Linked DNA regions of Homo sapiens. The protein of the gene in region 2 interacts with the protein of the main gene of each other region in a biochemical or structural test. Each region holds a gene or a part of one and is shown on either strand. Other genes may lie near its edges.

The links.
Region 1: of the proteins of RIPK1 (region 2) and BIRC3, one has a biochemical effect on the other in vitro, tested with the Homo sapiens proteins (5 studies listed by BioGRID, with this or other methods).

Annotation. Positions count from the first base shown.
Region 1 is NC_000011.10:102,312,568-102,320,497, reverse strand, and holds the start of BIRC3 (baculoviral IAP repeat-containing protein 3), read right to left. Parts: upstream 3,015-7,930; 5' UTR 2,927-3,014; intron 1-2,926. UniProt on the Homo sapiens protein: Multi-functional protein which regulates not only caspases and apoptosis, but also modulates inflammatory signaling and immunity, mitogenic kinase signaling and cell proliferation, as well as cell invasion and metastasis.
Region 2 is NC_000006.12:3,063,652-3,071,507, reverse strand, and holds the start of RIPK1 (receptor-interacting serine/threonine-protein kinase 1), read right to left. Parts: upstream 3,015-7,856; 5' UTR 2,847-3,014; exon of another isoform or gene 2,652-2,846; intron 2,452-2,651; exon of another isoform or gene 1,792-2,451; coding exon of another isoform or gene 1,729-1,791; intron 1-1,728. UniProt on the Homo sapiens protein: Serine-threonine kinase which is a key regulator of TNF-mediated apoptosis, necroptosis and inflammatory pathways.

The sequences.
Region 1 (7,930 bases), on a different chromosome or scaffold from region 2:
AGCCCAGGTGTTTGAGACCAGCCTCAAACTGGGTGACTTGGCAAAACACCATCTCTACAAAGAAACTCAAAAATTAGCCAGACATGGTGGCACCTGCCTGTGGTCCCAGCTACTTGAGAGGCTGAGGCAGGAGGTTCACTTGAGCCCATGAGGCAGAGCTTGCAGTGTGAGACTGCATAACTGCACTCCAAACTGGGTGACAGAGCAAGACCCTGTCTCAAAAAAAGAGAGAGAGAGAGAAAGAGAGACACTGAGAGTTTTTCTCATTTATATCACCTCCATTTGAGTTTGCAAACCCCTTACACAAATCTTATCCTAAAGAAGCTTTAGGTCAGGCGTGGTGGCTCACGCCTGTAATCCCAGCACTTTGGGAGGCCAAGGAAAGCAGATAACTTGAGATCAGGAGTTCGAGACCAGGCTGGCCAACATGGTGAAACCCTGTCTCTACTAAAAATCCAAAAAAAAAAACCATCGGGCGTGGTGGCACGCACCTGTATTTCCAGCTACTCAGGAGACTGAAGCAGGAGAATCACTTGAACCCGGGAGGTGAAGGTTGCAGTAAGCCAAGATCACACCACTGCACTCCAGCAAGGCATATATTTGTGGAAATTTAGGCAACAACTATACAATAAATATACACAAATATGCCAAGATGTCAACCCTAGATCACTTCAACCTCTGTCCTAATCATTTCCAACACCTAGATGCAACCCTGCAGACTGGGACCAGCATCACTTAAGACTCCTCTGCCATCCCTTAGCAATAGGCTCAGCTCCCTAGCCCATGCCCTATGCACCTCTTCTAAACCTTCAACACCTTCCTCAAATTTCTCCACTGCACTCCATCTCATTTTCAGTCAATTACTTTGCCTTCTGTTTCTCAAAGAAAAGAGACATCATTGAGCAGGAACCTTCTCACGTTCTCATATCCAAGCCGTTTTGGCTCACAACCTACTTGCTGTCTCAGTTAAAGACTTGCCCCCTTATGGGATCCTACACTGTCCTACTGCCTCAGAAATCTTGTTCTTAATCCCATCCCCTCATTGCTTCAACTCTCATTCCTGTCACTCTCGACTGGCCTTTTTCCTTTCACATAACCATGCTTAAATCTATCTCAACTTTCAAATGAAAGAAATTTTTAAAATTCTCTTTCGGCCGGGTGTGGTGGCTCATGCCTGTAATCCCAGCACTTCAGGAGGCTGAGGCGAGTGGATCACGAGGTCAGGAGACTGAGACCATCCTGGCTAACACGGTGAAACCCCGTCTCTACTAAAAAAAATACAAAAAATTAGCCGGGTGTGGTGGCATGCACCTGTAGTCCCAGCTGCTCAGGAGGCTGAGGCAGGAGAATCGCTTGAACCCGGGAGGTGGAGGTTGCAGTAAGCCGAGACTGCACCACTGCACTCCAGCCTGGGTGACAGAGTGAGACTCTGTCTCAAAAAAAAAAAAAAAAAATCCTCTTTCAACCACACTTTCCACTCTAGCAACTACCCTGTATCACCCCTTCTCTTCACAGCCAAGCAAACTGGACATGTGTGTATGGTTAATGTCTCCATTTTCCCTCTCCCATTTACTCATTAAGTCAGCATCACTTAAAACTGCTTTCGGTGTTAATAACACCAATGGCTTTTTTGCTAAAACCAATGGAAATGTTTGCATCTGACACTGGGACACACTTCCTCTTAGAAATGTCCCATTCCCTGGGCTTCTCTGATACCAAGCTCTTGGGATTCTTCTTTCATTTCTAGTGGTTCCTTCTCAGATTGGCTCAGTCCCCAGCCTCTCCTCTTCTGACTCATTCATTTAACCTACCAAGAAGGCAACCTCCCCAGTCCCAGGGCTGTTGGGCATCCCTACCCTTTGGGCATGCAGCACATCCATTTTTCTGACACTGGAGGGCAAGTGTGCCTTTTCTTTCTGCCTCCCGCTAGACAGTAAGCTCTTTTAGAATGGCAACTATTAATATGTTTCATCTCTGTACCTGCCCTCCCACTCATAGCATCTGCAGAGCTTGGTATATGGGGTAGACACGAAGACTTCCCGTTGAAGAAGTAAATGACTGAGACCTGAGTGACCACAGTACTTCTATCAATTTTATATTAATGACCACAGAGTCAGCTCAGTGATTGATTAGTATCAGGCTTTGGAGTCAGACATCGGGGGTGCCCAATACCAAGCAGTCCGGTAACCAGAAGCATGACCTTGCACAAGTAAATCTCCAAGAGCCTCAGTTTCCTCATTGTCAAATGGAGATAATTATGGTACCTGCTTCTTAAGATTATGATAATTAAACGTGAAAAATACATGTAAAGTCTTCAGAGACAAACCTAGCACATAGCAGGTAGCAGTACTTAATGTTAGCAATAAATAATAGCAAATAAAGTCAATATTTAATATTATTGTTACGTTAGCATCAGGTACATGCCTTCGACAATGTATTGATCAGAGTAAGAGCACTACTAGGTTTCCATGCTGATCACCAGGAAGACAACCAAAAACTGCTGTCTTCCTACCACCGCTTGGAAACATGCGTCCATTTGCTCATTAAACGTTTTACTTCCTTCCTGTGCCAGAGCTCTGCCTTAGGCTCTGTCCTGAAATTTATTTGGCACCTGCAAAGGCCCAGTGATAACTCTTGGCAACCGAATCAAAATGCCACAACTTCACAATTCCACTGGCTCACTCCAAACGTGAAATAGAAATTGAGCACCTGGAACCTATCTAGAGCCTGCTTTTGGGCCCTGGTGTTTGATAACTGCGCCCCACCCACTGACTCTCAACCTCTGCAGCGCCCCGGGCTCTAGCCCTAAGCGCCCCTCGGCCAGCCGCTGGCACATCTCTTACACCAGGGGAGGCGCGCGCGCGCGCACACATACACACACACACACGCACACACACACACACACACACCAGCCTTCCTTGCCCACCTGCTGCCCAGAGGCCGACGACGCATGCACCAGCAAGGACAAGCCCAGTCTTTTCAAGCGACACCTGTCGCCTGGCCTTTTCCGTGCCGGAGGGCGCGAGTCTCACGCTGTCTTTTAAATGCGTCACCCAAATCCCCACCCCTATCTGTACCAGGCGTTCCGCACTCCTCCCAGTGGTTTGCATGTGCACTGGTGCTTTCCTTTTAGGACTTAGGGGAACTCCAGCGGTAATAACCACACACACTTCCTCTTAATCAGTGGCCTGGCAAACCCACTCGGGGATTTCCATGACCCAAAAGCATGACTCTTAACCGTGGCATATCTTCGCGGCATTTACTGAAAGACATTTGCTTCATTGCTCGTGGGTCAGAGGAAATCTTGATAACAACCCATATAGAGAGGACGATCATTGCTTAGCCTGCCTGGAAAAGGTCAATATGCCCTGTTCTCCACCCTCCATCCGCCATACACTTTACACGTAAAAAGGTTAGGTTTTTCAATCTTCTACTATAGCTGCAGAAGTCCAGCATTTAAAAAAAAAAAAATCGAAACTTTGTGAAATATTTCTATTTATTTTTACTTTTTGTTCTGATCAAGAAAGTAAGAGGTGAAAGGAAATGTAGGGGTATGTGAAAAAAATCATGCAGTTCTCCTTTGCAGTTTATTTTACCATTTTAAAGATTGAAATGGCTTGGTAAATTTTCTGTATGGAAATACTTTTGTTTGGTTTGGTGAGTTGTTTTTTTTTTTTTTTTAATAAGTAGGGTGGAGTTGGCTACTTAAAAAAATCCCTCCTTTATAGCCTTTGATCTCACAGGGCAGGTTTCTGAGTTGCAGTGCCATTCTCAGGGAAACCTGACATCTTTGAGTCTAATTGCACTGCCATATTTCCCTCAACGTTCTCTAAGCAGTAAATTTAAGCAACTTTATCTGAGAGCCATCCGTACCAGGGTAACAGATGGATTTGGAGAGCTCATCTGATTTTCTATCTTCCAGTAGATCAAAGACAATTACCAACCAGAGACAGAGCCCATAAAGATTATTGGAGACTTCATCGTTCTGTGGAAACAGCATCCAGTGCATTCTGCACGCAATTGGACTGAGCTGAGGCATCCTCTTGTTTAGGTGGACTTGGCTGTCCATAGCAGCTGAAGTTCCAGTTGGAATTATTTCAGAAAGACTAAGTGTATTTATCATATGGAGATTTTAATCCACATTTGAGTCTGCTTCAATCAAGACTTTCTAAGCCATTTTCAACTCACTCCTGAGATTATTGAAAATAATTTGCAGGCCTTACACATTTTTGATTATGTACTCACCAGAAGAATTTTGAAAAGCTCTGCATTCCCTTGCCCATTTTTAACTTAACATTAAAACATAAAGCTCTTGTACATGTCAAGAATCTACAAAATGTAAACATAGATATTTTCAGAAAAAATTGATAGAGCACTCTTTTAAATGTATTTGATGGATCCTAATACCATAGTAATTTGACATACATGATCATCCATGAAGCAATTATCAGGTCATCTTTAATAACTGAAAATATTTTATCATTGCCTTTTGTCATTGAACATTCCAATTCCCCTACAGAATGTTAATACATGTTTGTACTGAACATCTTTTATCATCTCTCTGTCACATATCTCTGAAACAAATACATATTAGAACTTGAAATCTATTTTTTTCTCTGGGATCATAAGGATCTAAGTGTTAAAAAAAAAAAAAATTCCTCTTTGACCAGGCATGGTGGCTCACGCCTATAATACCAGCACTTTGGGAGGCGAAGGTGGGTGGATCATCTGAGGTCAGGAGTTCAAGACCAGTCTGGCCAACATGGTGAAACCGGTCTCTCCCAAAAATACAAAAATGAGCCAAGTGTGGTGGTGCACGCCTGTAGTCCCAGCTACTTGGGAGGCTGAGGCACAAGAATCACTTGAACCTGGGAGGCAGAGGTTGCAATGAGTCAAGACAGTGCCACTGCACTCCAGCCCTGGAACAGAGTGAGACTGCATCTCAAAAAAAAAAAAAAAAAATCCTCTTTGATTACATTATCATTGATATTGTTTTCATTACTTTTAAAGCATAATTGGTCAATACAATATAAAAATATCGTAAATGTTAATAACTGCATTACAAATACAATTTAAGGGGGTGGCAGCTTGTATTTTAAGCAAGTTTTTCAAGTGTGCAGTCATGAATATTACCTATAGCTATAATATGTTAGGGTTCAGCACAGATTCTGTTCCTTTTTTCATTTCTACAGACATAAATGTTGTAAACCTTATTTCACAGAAGTAAGTAGATAAGTAGATAGGCCCAGAAGAAACATTATTATGGCAATTTTTTCACAATTTAAAAAATATGTTTTATATTCCAAAAATCATTTAGTGATCTCTAATCAAAATATGTAATTACTTATCAGTAGACAACTCAATTTTGTTGAAATTGGTGGTTTAGAAACCACTGAACTTTTGGTATCCAGATACAGTTGACAGAGTTAGCAAATTAAAACAGAGAACACCTAGTTAAATTTTGGTTTAATATAAACAATGAATGCATTTCCAGTATAAGAATGTATTGTGCAATATTTGGCACCTAGCTATACTAATAAGTTATTCATTAGTTATCTGAAATTTAGATTCAGTTTGGTGTTCTGTATTTTACCTGGCAACCCTATATCCAGATATTAGAGTCATTCATTTTCTCAACACTAATACAGATCGATTATTTCAAATCATCCAGGAGGTTTCTACACCCAGAGAAATATACGATTTTAAAACTCATGATAGGTGAGAGGTGAGCCTGTCTTTTAAGGGAAGACAGAGAACCATTGTGAAAAGGGAGATGAGAAGACAGAACAACCCTGGCAACCTTCACAGTTCTTGTTTTCAAGCAGATCAGTTTTGGGAGAAGCTACATATGGAAGTTGAGAGTGAGACTATTAATTCCTTAAAACTATTTGAGCTCCCACCTCCCTGTTGGTAAGTCTTTGTAAACACCCAGGGGCACACTTACCCCAGTTTAAAAACTATGGCTGGCCAGGCACATTGGCTCACACCTGTAATCCCAGCACTTTGGGAGGCTGAGGTGTGTGGATCACCGGAGGTCAGGAGTTCGAGACCAGCCTGGTCAACATGGCAAAACCCCATTTCTACTAAAAATACAAAGATAAGCGGGTCATGGTGGCAGGTGCCTGTAATCCCAGCTACTTGGGAGGCTGAGGCAGGAGAATTGCTTGAACCCGGGGAGGCAGAGGTTACAGTGAGCTGAGATCTCGCTACTGCACTCCAGCCTGGGAGAGAGAGCAAGAATCCATTGCCAAAAAAGTAAATAAATAAAAATAAATAAAGACCATGGCTTAAGAAATCCCTGAATTGACTGAGTCTCGCGTTTTTCAAACTGGTCATGAGAGCTAGGGTCAGGCCTAGTAGGTTGGAAGCAAATTAACATGTCTGCTTTGCAACATTTTGCACAATTAAAAAAAAAATGGTTTCCCTAGATAAATGTGTATGGGCAAGCACTGTATATATTTGTTCACTGCATTATTCTAGTACTAGTAGAGTGTCTGCTCAAAGGTGCTCAGTAAACCTTTGTTTACTGACTAACAAAAATAGAGCCAATCTATCCAAACTATCCACTTGGGCTTTCTCTATTCTAAACCTGCATCCACATCTTTAATGGTGTAACCTACCTTGCATTTTCTTTCTAACTCTTTGTATATCTCACATACTTTATTAAAAAAACTCCTCTTTTCCTTTCAACATCCAGCTGTTATCCTTGTGCAGGGGGCATGCTAATCTTCTTGGTAGGGTTCCAATTTTAGTATATGTGCTGCCAAAGCAAGCACAGCCTAAATATATTTTCTCTCCAAATACTCTTATTTTCTTCCAAGCCAGTGAATTCCAAGCTCCAAATACTCTTTTCACGACAGAAATACACAAGGAAACCTTTGAGGAAAGTGAAAGCTAGACACAAACTGTATAGCCATTACTATCTTCAGTTTTCTAGGTTTGTTTGTGGTTTTTTTGTTGTTGTTTTCTCATTTTTATTTTTTTGAGACAGAGCCTTGTTCTCAGGCTGAAATGTCACCCAGGCTGAAATGCGGTGGCACAATCTCAGCTCACTATAACCTCAACCTACTGGGCTCAATCAATCCTCCCATCTCAGCCTCCTGAGTAGTTCTGACTACAGTCACGGGCTACCATGCTTGGCTAATTTTTGTATTTTTTATAGAGACAGAGCCTTGCGATGTTGCCCTGGCTGGCCTCTTGGGCTCAAGTCATCTATCTGCCTTGACCTCCCAAAGTGCTGGGATTATAGACATGAGCCACCACACTTGGCCTCTTGGTTTTCCAGTTTTTTTCTACTGTCAGTGTATGAGCAAGGTATGAATGACAGAGTTTTTCATCCCATTCCTGGCTCAGAACTCTGACAATTCCTGAGAGCGGTATGCTCTCAATATCCTATTATCAAATAATCAATTTAAAAGTATTTTTCCCTTGGGGGAATTATTATTAAAAATATTTTTTCTCTGGAGGGAATTTCGCATAATGTTGTAACAACTTTAGTTGTAGCCTAATGCTTTTTCACTGTAAGTTTTTAGATTTTTATGTATAAAGAAACCCAGGAATCTAGAACTGAAAGTGAAAGTGAAATCTTACAGGGAACATACTGTTCTAATTCCAAAGCAAATCTGAGAGTCCTTGTAAATGTTGACAATTTCCTGGTCTGTTGATAACTTTCTAACATCTTGCAAATAAAATACAATTACACCAGCCTTGAATAAGTGCTAACGAAGATCAAATTTACAAAGAAACCTCCTCTAATGTAAAGCTTTAGTCAAGATAATGAAGTTTACCCCTCATAAATGGTGGCTTACTTTATTTTATACTGATAGTACTCTAATAAAATATAATTTATATCATGTAAAGTACACAGATATTAAAAGCGTATAGCTTTATGATTTTGACAAATGAATGTACTCAGTTAACTATCAACCAG
Region 2 (7,856 bases):
GCCATGACACAGAGTGACAAAGACATGCTGGCCTGTTATAGCAAATAATTTTAACTAATAATTACGTCCATTTGAAGGAATTTGTAAATGTTTTGCATAAATATTAATTCAGGGACTCAGGACAGTGAATTTGTTTCTATTGAAATTAATGTGAAATCTCAAGGAATTTCACGATTACCTTCTAAGGCAGGGTAAGTATACATATCAAAATATTCTAATTAACTTTTTCCCCATTTTTCTATGATGACCACACATAACAAGAGAATGGCAGAAAATGCTGGTTGCCCACCTGCCATTGCCCCCTTTCTTCCCACTAACAGAATTCTGATTTTGCTCAGCTATCCAAGTGACCAGAGGATTTCTCCAACTTCCTTGATTACAGCAGCCTGATGCTTTGCCTGGATAAACAAAAGCTCTGAGCAAGGAAGAGACTTAAGGACCAGCAAGAGACAAGAATTGAAACAGAGTTTAAACAAGCATCATAACCCCTGAAGCAAATTTTATCATGATTTCAATTTGCAAATAAAGAAACTAAGATTTGGAGCTAAGTGATTCACCTAAAGTGGTAGGATCCTGGAATGAAATATTTGTCCCTTCATTCAAACTTTCACTATTGGCTCACTAATACATGCTACTTCTCTAGATAGCAAATAATCTGTCTTCGGAAAAATCCAGATGCAAAGACCCACCCTTACAGCCTTACTCATCTATATTAAATAAATGTGCGACAGTCAGAAACACGGAGAAAGTACAGAATAAACTTTTTAAATACAGGAAGGTGAGGTGCAGGGGCTCATGCCTGTAATCCCAGCACTTTGGGAGGCCAAGGAGGGCAGATTGCCAAGAGTTTGAGACCAGATTGGCCAACGTGGTGAAGCCCTGTCTCTACTAAAAATACAAAAATTAGCCAGGCATGGTAGTGCATGCCTACAATCCCAGCTTCTTGGGAGGCTGAGGCAGGAGAACTGCTTGAACCCGGGAGGCGAAGGTTACATTAAGCCGCGATCGCGCCACTGCACTCCAGCCTGGGTGACAGAGCAAGACTCTGTCTCAAAAATAAAAATACACGGCTCATGTATTTTTGAAATATATGGTTCAAAATCAATGTTCTACAGATTAATACAGTCAACCTTTTTTGCCAGAATGTAATATCCAACTAAAGCATGGGAAATTAAGTATTTTCTTCAAATTCCCAGATCATATGGATGTTAACACGTTATAGATTAATAAGCACCAAAAAGTAAGCTGCCCAGTTTGAAAGAGGCTGTTTAAGAGCTTTTCTTAATACTCATTAATATTCACATTCCAGAAAGTACAACATATCTCTGAGGCTCAGTATAGTTCAGACAGAGGAAAATGAGTATTAAAAGTTATCATTTTTGCTATTTTATCAGTAATAATGATACACTCCAAATTTCATTTTAAACAAGCCTAGTCTTCACTTTTTGTGAATAGAAGAGCTGCAGTATTCCCCATTTCTTTATTTATTTTTTTTTTTGATACAGAGTCTCCCTCTGTCGCCCAGGATAGAGTGTAAGTGGCAATCTCGGCTCACTGCAACTACCGCCTCCTGGGTTCAAGCCATTCTCCTGCCTCAGCCTCCCGCGTAGCTGGGATTACAGGGACCCGCCACCACACCTGGCTAATTTTTGTATTTTTAGTAGAGACAGGGTTTTGCCATGTTGGCCAGGCTGGTCTCGAACTCCTGACCTCAGGTGATCCTCCCACCTCGGCCTCCGAAGTGCTCGGATTACAGGAGTGAGCCACCGTGCCCGACGCAGTATTCCACATTTCTAACAAGACAATTTCCTCTTGACTCAGTCCATCTTCCTAGCAGTCACAGAATGCAGATGAGTACTAAGACATTGCACATTTCAAAGTTCACTTCCTGCCTTGGCTTCTTCAAGTGTAAGTCAGGGAAGAATTAATCATTGGAACAGCCTCCTGCTTTGCCCAAAATAAAAAAGAGCTCTGATTAAGGGAGAGCCAAATGGTCAGCAAGAGAGAAAGAACTAACAACCCCAGACCTCCCCCTGCCCCCGCAACCCCCGCATCCCTGTGAGGCTTTGTCAAATGCTTAGGGAAGGAGGATGCAGCCTATCCTCTTCCCAACCCTCAAGAGGGTCCGCAGCACTTCACAAAAGCACCTGCCAGTGACAGAAGCCTGCTAGGGTTACCACATTCGTCCCCTCAGTCGTCTAAGATCACGCAGAAATGCTTTTGTTTTTGGAACCTGCTGCGGCCTCAAGCGCAACAGTAAAAGGCCCTTTCAAAGGGCTGGTAAGGGAAGAGCCCAAACTGTTTTTTCTTAATGATAGGGCACTAGGAGCCCACCTTCTCCACCAAAACAACATTAATGGCGTGTGGGACTGCCTATTCCACCCTCACGCGGTAACCGCGGCCCAAAGGCAGGTCTCCGCCCGCTACCAGTCCAGCGCCCCGACCTCTGGCACAGAGGCGGCCAGCGGACTCCGGATAAGCAGAGACACCTAGCGGAGCACCCCTGACTTCCGGGAGCGCCCGCGGCCCCGCCCACCGCCCGACTTCCGGTACCGGCGGGGCCCGCCCGCCGCGCGCACCCCGGGCAGAGTCCCTCTCCTTCCGGGAAGCCCGCGGCCGCCCCGGCCTCCACGCAAGCACCCGAGCGTTACTTTCGTTTCCGCGGCAAACGTCTGGAGGCCCGGGTGAGGGAAGAAGCGGCGGCGGAGGGTTGGGGATTACTCCGACGCCGCGGCAGCCTTGCCCGGGCGTGCTGGGGGAGGGCGCGCGAACCCCGACCAGGGGGGTCACCGGGACTGAGCCCGGCGGCCTCCGGAATGTTCCCCGCGCGGTGCCAGTCCGCTCACCGCGCCCTTCTCCGTGGCCGCGCCGTCCAGCCAAGTCCTGCCGCGCTCCGTCGGCCCCGCCCGGATGGCCGCGCTCTGGCGCCCCAGCTGTGGGTCCCCTGGAGTCGCCGCGCTCCGGCAGCTGGCCCGCCGTCCGCGTCGAGCGCGCCCGGCTGGAGGGCGTGGACTGTTCGCGCTGCCTCCTCCCCCTGCCCCGGCCCTTGCCGGGGAGGAGGACCGCGAGAGCGCCGCCCCGCCGCTCGTGGGACCTCGCGCCCGGGGTCTGAGTCCCGGAGCTCTCTTGCGGGCTAGAGGATCGCGGACTTTGTTTTCAAGCGAGTGGGGCGGCCTACGTAAAAGAGGAAACCGAAACCTCCGCGCGCACGAGAGGGAGAAGGGTCTGGAGGGAAGCACTGGGTGGATTACAGCGGGGGCGCTATCCGGAGGATTCAGAGCTCTGCGGGTTAGCATAGGCAAGTTAGCATTCCTCTACCTTCATCTGTAAAGTGGGGCTGTTGAGGAGGAAATGTGATTATTTTGCAGCCCTTTAAAATGGTAATTGTGAAGTCTCGAGCAAAGTTGGAACTGCATGCTATTCATGTATATTAAAAATCAAATAATAAAATTATATGCACATCAGGCCGGGCGCGGTTGTTCACGCCTGTAATCCCAGCACTTTGGGAAGCCAAGGCGGGCGGATCACTTGAGGTCAGCAGTTCGAGACCAGCCTGGCCAACATGGTGAAACCCCATCTCTACTAAAAAATACAAAAATCAACTGGGCGTGGTGGCGGGCACCAGCAATCCCAGCTACTCGGGAGGCTGAGGCAGGAGAATCCCTTGAACCTGGGAGGTGGAGATTGTAGTGAGCCGAGATCGCGCCACTGCACTCCAGCCTGGGTGACAAGAGCAAGATTCCGTCTCAAAAGGAAAAAAAAAAAAAGCACAACAGGATTACATACTGTGAAAAGATATGTATGTCAAGAGAACTAGCCACGTTCACAACACGAGCCACAGACTGGGAGAAAATATTTGCAAAAGACATATCTGATAAAGCACTGTGACCCAAAATATACCAAAAAAAACCCTCTTAAAATGCAACAATATGAAAATGTACAACTTGATTAAAGGCGGGCAAAAGCTCTGAACATACACCTCACCATATGTATATGCATATGAAAAGATGCTCAACATCATGTCATTAAAGAATTGCAATTTAAAAAAACAAATACTATTACACATTTATTAGAATGGCTAAAATTCAGAACACTGACAACAACAAATGTTGATGAGGATCTGGAGCACAAGGAACTCCCATACATTCCTAGTGGGAATGCCTAATGTTAGAGTCTGGAAGACATTTTGGCAATTTCTTAACCAAGCTCTTCTTACCATAAGATGAAGCAACTCCACACCTTGGTATTTACCCAAACGAGTTGAAAGCTTATGCCCATACAAACACCTGTACAAGAATGTCTATAGCAGCTTTATTCATAATTGCCAAAACTTGAGGGCATCCAAGATATCACTTAATGGGTGGACAGATAAGCTGTGGTACATCTATACAATGGAATATTAAGTGCTAAAAAGAAATGAGCTCTGAAGCCACAAAAAAAAAAAAAAAAAAAAAAATCCTGGAGCAATCCTAAATGTATAAATCTAAGTGAAAGAAGCCAATCTGAGAAGACTACATAATGCATGATTCCAACTATGTGACATTCTGGAAAAGGAAAAACTACGGAGATAGTAAAAAAGATCAGCGGCTGCCAGGGATTTGCAGGGAAGGAGGGATGGATAGGTGAGGCACAAGGGATTTTTAGGGCAGTGGAGTCTGACGTTACAGGGTTGGGTACATCTCTATACATTTGTCAAATGTATCTTGAATATACACAAAGAGCAAAACCTAACAAACTCCGGACTTTGGCTGATAATGTATATGTTTTATCCATATTGGTTCATTTTTGTAACCATGAATCTATGTTGGTTTATCAGGTGTGACAAATATTCCACAGTAATGCAGGATGTTGATGGTAGGGGAGGCTGTACAGTCCAGGATGTTTGTGGAAGGGGATATTTTCTTTCTGCTTAGTTTTGCTGTAAACCAAAACAGCTCTAAAACAAAGTCTATTCATTATTTTTTAAAAGATGTACACATATCAAAAAAGACGAAAGGCAGAGCTATTCACTCAGCAAAGCTTTCTATCTACTGTATGCCAAGCAGGTACTAGATACAAGAGCATCTGGTGATAGATACAAGAAATACAAAAAGGAATTCATTCCTTCAGTAAATATTTACTGAGCACCTGTTCTAGGCACTGAAGACTCGGTTGTGAATTAAACACAAAAAATCTCTATGTTCTGGCCGTGTGTAGTGGCTCACACCTGTAATCCTAGCACTTTGGGAGGCCAAGTCGGGCGGATTGCCTGAGCTCAGGGGTTCCGGACCAGCCTGGCAAACATGATGAAACCTCGTCTCTACTAAAAATACAAAAATTAGCTGGGCGTGGTGGTGCATGCCTGTAGACCCAGCTACTCAGGAGGCTGAGGCGGGAGAATTGCTTGAACCCAGAAGGCGGAGGTTGCAGTGAGCCAAGATTGCTCCAGCCTGGGTGACAGAGCCAGACTCCGTCTCAAAAAACAATAAAAAATAAAAAACTCCACGTTCCATTCGTGGAGCTTGCATTCTAATGGGGAAGACAAAAAGTTATTGCCCATCACTGTCCTCTAGACATCATGTGACCTTGGGAGGTTGGAAATGCGTTGTTTTTGCTTCATTTTGTGTTCAGTGTTTTAACTCAGAAACATCTATTTGGGAGCTTTACTCATTACTCCCAGCAAAAGCCATGAGTGTAGACTGTGCATGAGATGAAGGAACTGGTCCTTGCAGAACACCAGAATGGAAAAGGCAAGAAACAGCCCAAGGTGAGGAAAGAAAACCAGCGAGAACAAAGAGCTGGTACTATCTCTGAAGCCCGTGGAGGCCAAAGTGTGAATATGAGGGGGTAGGTCTCTTGGCCACAGGCCTGAAACCAAATGAACCCCCACCCCCAGGCTGCAGTTCCCAGTGCACTTGGAAATGAGACCCTGACTCCTCCAGGTGAGCCTGGGAGACCTCCCTGACTCCTTTCCATCTCCCCCTCCTCCCCCACACCCATCTCCAAGGCCTGCCCTCTACGCCCACATTTCTTCCCACTTTGGATCCTGTGCCTGGTCTAATGCCCAGGCCCCCTCCCGAGCCTCTGGTCTCCCTAGAGCCACTCCCCACTGTCGGGACACCTCATCTGTGCTCCCCAAAACGCCACGCAAAGCACTGGAGAGCCTTGGACAATGAACACAACCCGCACCCCCAGCCACCCCCGCCACAGCCGCACGGCACCTCAGAAAGCCGTGTCTTTTTTTTTTTTTTTTTTTTTTTTTTTGAGACGGAGTCTGGCTCTGTCGCCCAGGCTGGAGTGCTGGAGTGCAGTGGCGCGATCTCAGCTCACTGCAAGCTCCGCCTCCCGGGTTCACGCCATTCTCCTGCCTCAGCCTCCCGAGTAGCTGGGACTACAGGCGCCCGCCACCACGCCCGGCTATTTTTTTGTATTCTTTTTTTTCTTTTTTTTAGTAGAGACGGGGTTTCACAGTGTTAGCCAGGATGGTCTCCATCTCCTGACCTCGTGATCCGCCCGCCTCGGCCTCCCAGAGTGCTGGGATTACAGGCGTGAGCCACCGCACCCGACCAGAAAGCGGTGTCTTAATCCTCTTGTCCTTCCTCCTAAATCTCCTGGGGCCCTTAGGATCCGCTTAAAGCCACCTCGTTAAAACGGTTTCTTCTCCACCTGCCCCTCCCTTGATCCAGCCTCACTGAGGTCACAGCCTCCACCTCTGGCCATCCTGAACCCCTCCCAAAGTCACCTCTTCGCAAACTCCTGGTCCCCCTTAGAAGGCCCCACGTCCATCACGGGATTAATTCCACTCACCCTCAAACACCGCGGCCCGGAGGCTCTGATTCCCACCCTAGAGGAGGTTCTCTTGACCCCGCCGGCGCGACCCTCCCCAGCACGACCCTTCCTCCCGAAAGTGATTCCTCATCTTGCTGGCGGGTCCCACAGACCGCAGGCTCTGCAGGCGAGCGCTGAGCCTGGCTCTGCAGATTCTCAGTCCCTGGAGGAGTGCTCCGGGGAAGGAAGGGCCCCATCCGTTTCGCTGAGTTACTGAAAGAATTAGAATGGGTAAGAGTGCTCGGATTTAGAACTGGAGACTAGTGACTTTGAAAGACAGAAGAAGAACCAGGACAGACGTCATCCTGCGGATCCCAGAGCAGAGAGGAGCAGTGAGAACACAGGGCCGGCAGGTGGGGAGGAGGCTGCAGGGGAGGGCTTCGGCCAGGGAAGGGCAGCGAGGAGGCGCCGGGGAGGGCGGCGTCCGCGCTGGCTGGGAGCTGCGGAGGCGGAAACCGGCTGCGCGCTGCAGGGGACCCCCCACAGACCGTTGCTGACCCCGCCGAGACACCACCGCCTCCCCGGGGCTCTTGGCTGAGCGACCTCTCCTGTCTTCAGGTCCCATCTTTCGGTGGCAGCCGGTGGACCTGAAGCTCGCCACTCCCGTGCTCCACCCCGGCCGTGCGCGGGGACGTCCTCACCTGCCACCTAGTCTCCGTGTCGCGCTCCGAGCCTGGACGCCGACTCCCGAGGCGCAGGACCGGGCCCTGCTGCTGCGCTCGCCGCGGACTCCCACTCGGCCCCGGCGGGCACCGCCTTTTATATAGTAGCTTGTGACGCCACGGAGCTTTTCCCACACTTGACGAGCAGTCTAACTGGGGCTCCGCCTGCCGGGACTAGCCGGGGAGGCGCGCGCGTTCGCGCGGCGGCGGAGGGCAGGGCTAGGCGCAGAGGCAGATCCGTCTACCCCCAGTCCGCCCCGCCCAGGGCGATGTCCGCCAATGCTCCCGCCAGCCTGAGGCCGGCCAGGTTCCCAAGGCGCGCGCTCGGCCTCACCCACCCCCGGCGCCAGGGCCTCTTCAGGACCGGGTTCAGAACCTGACAGCCCA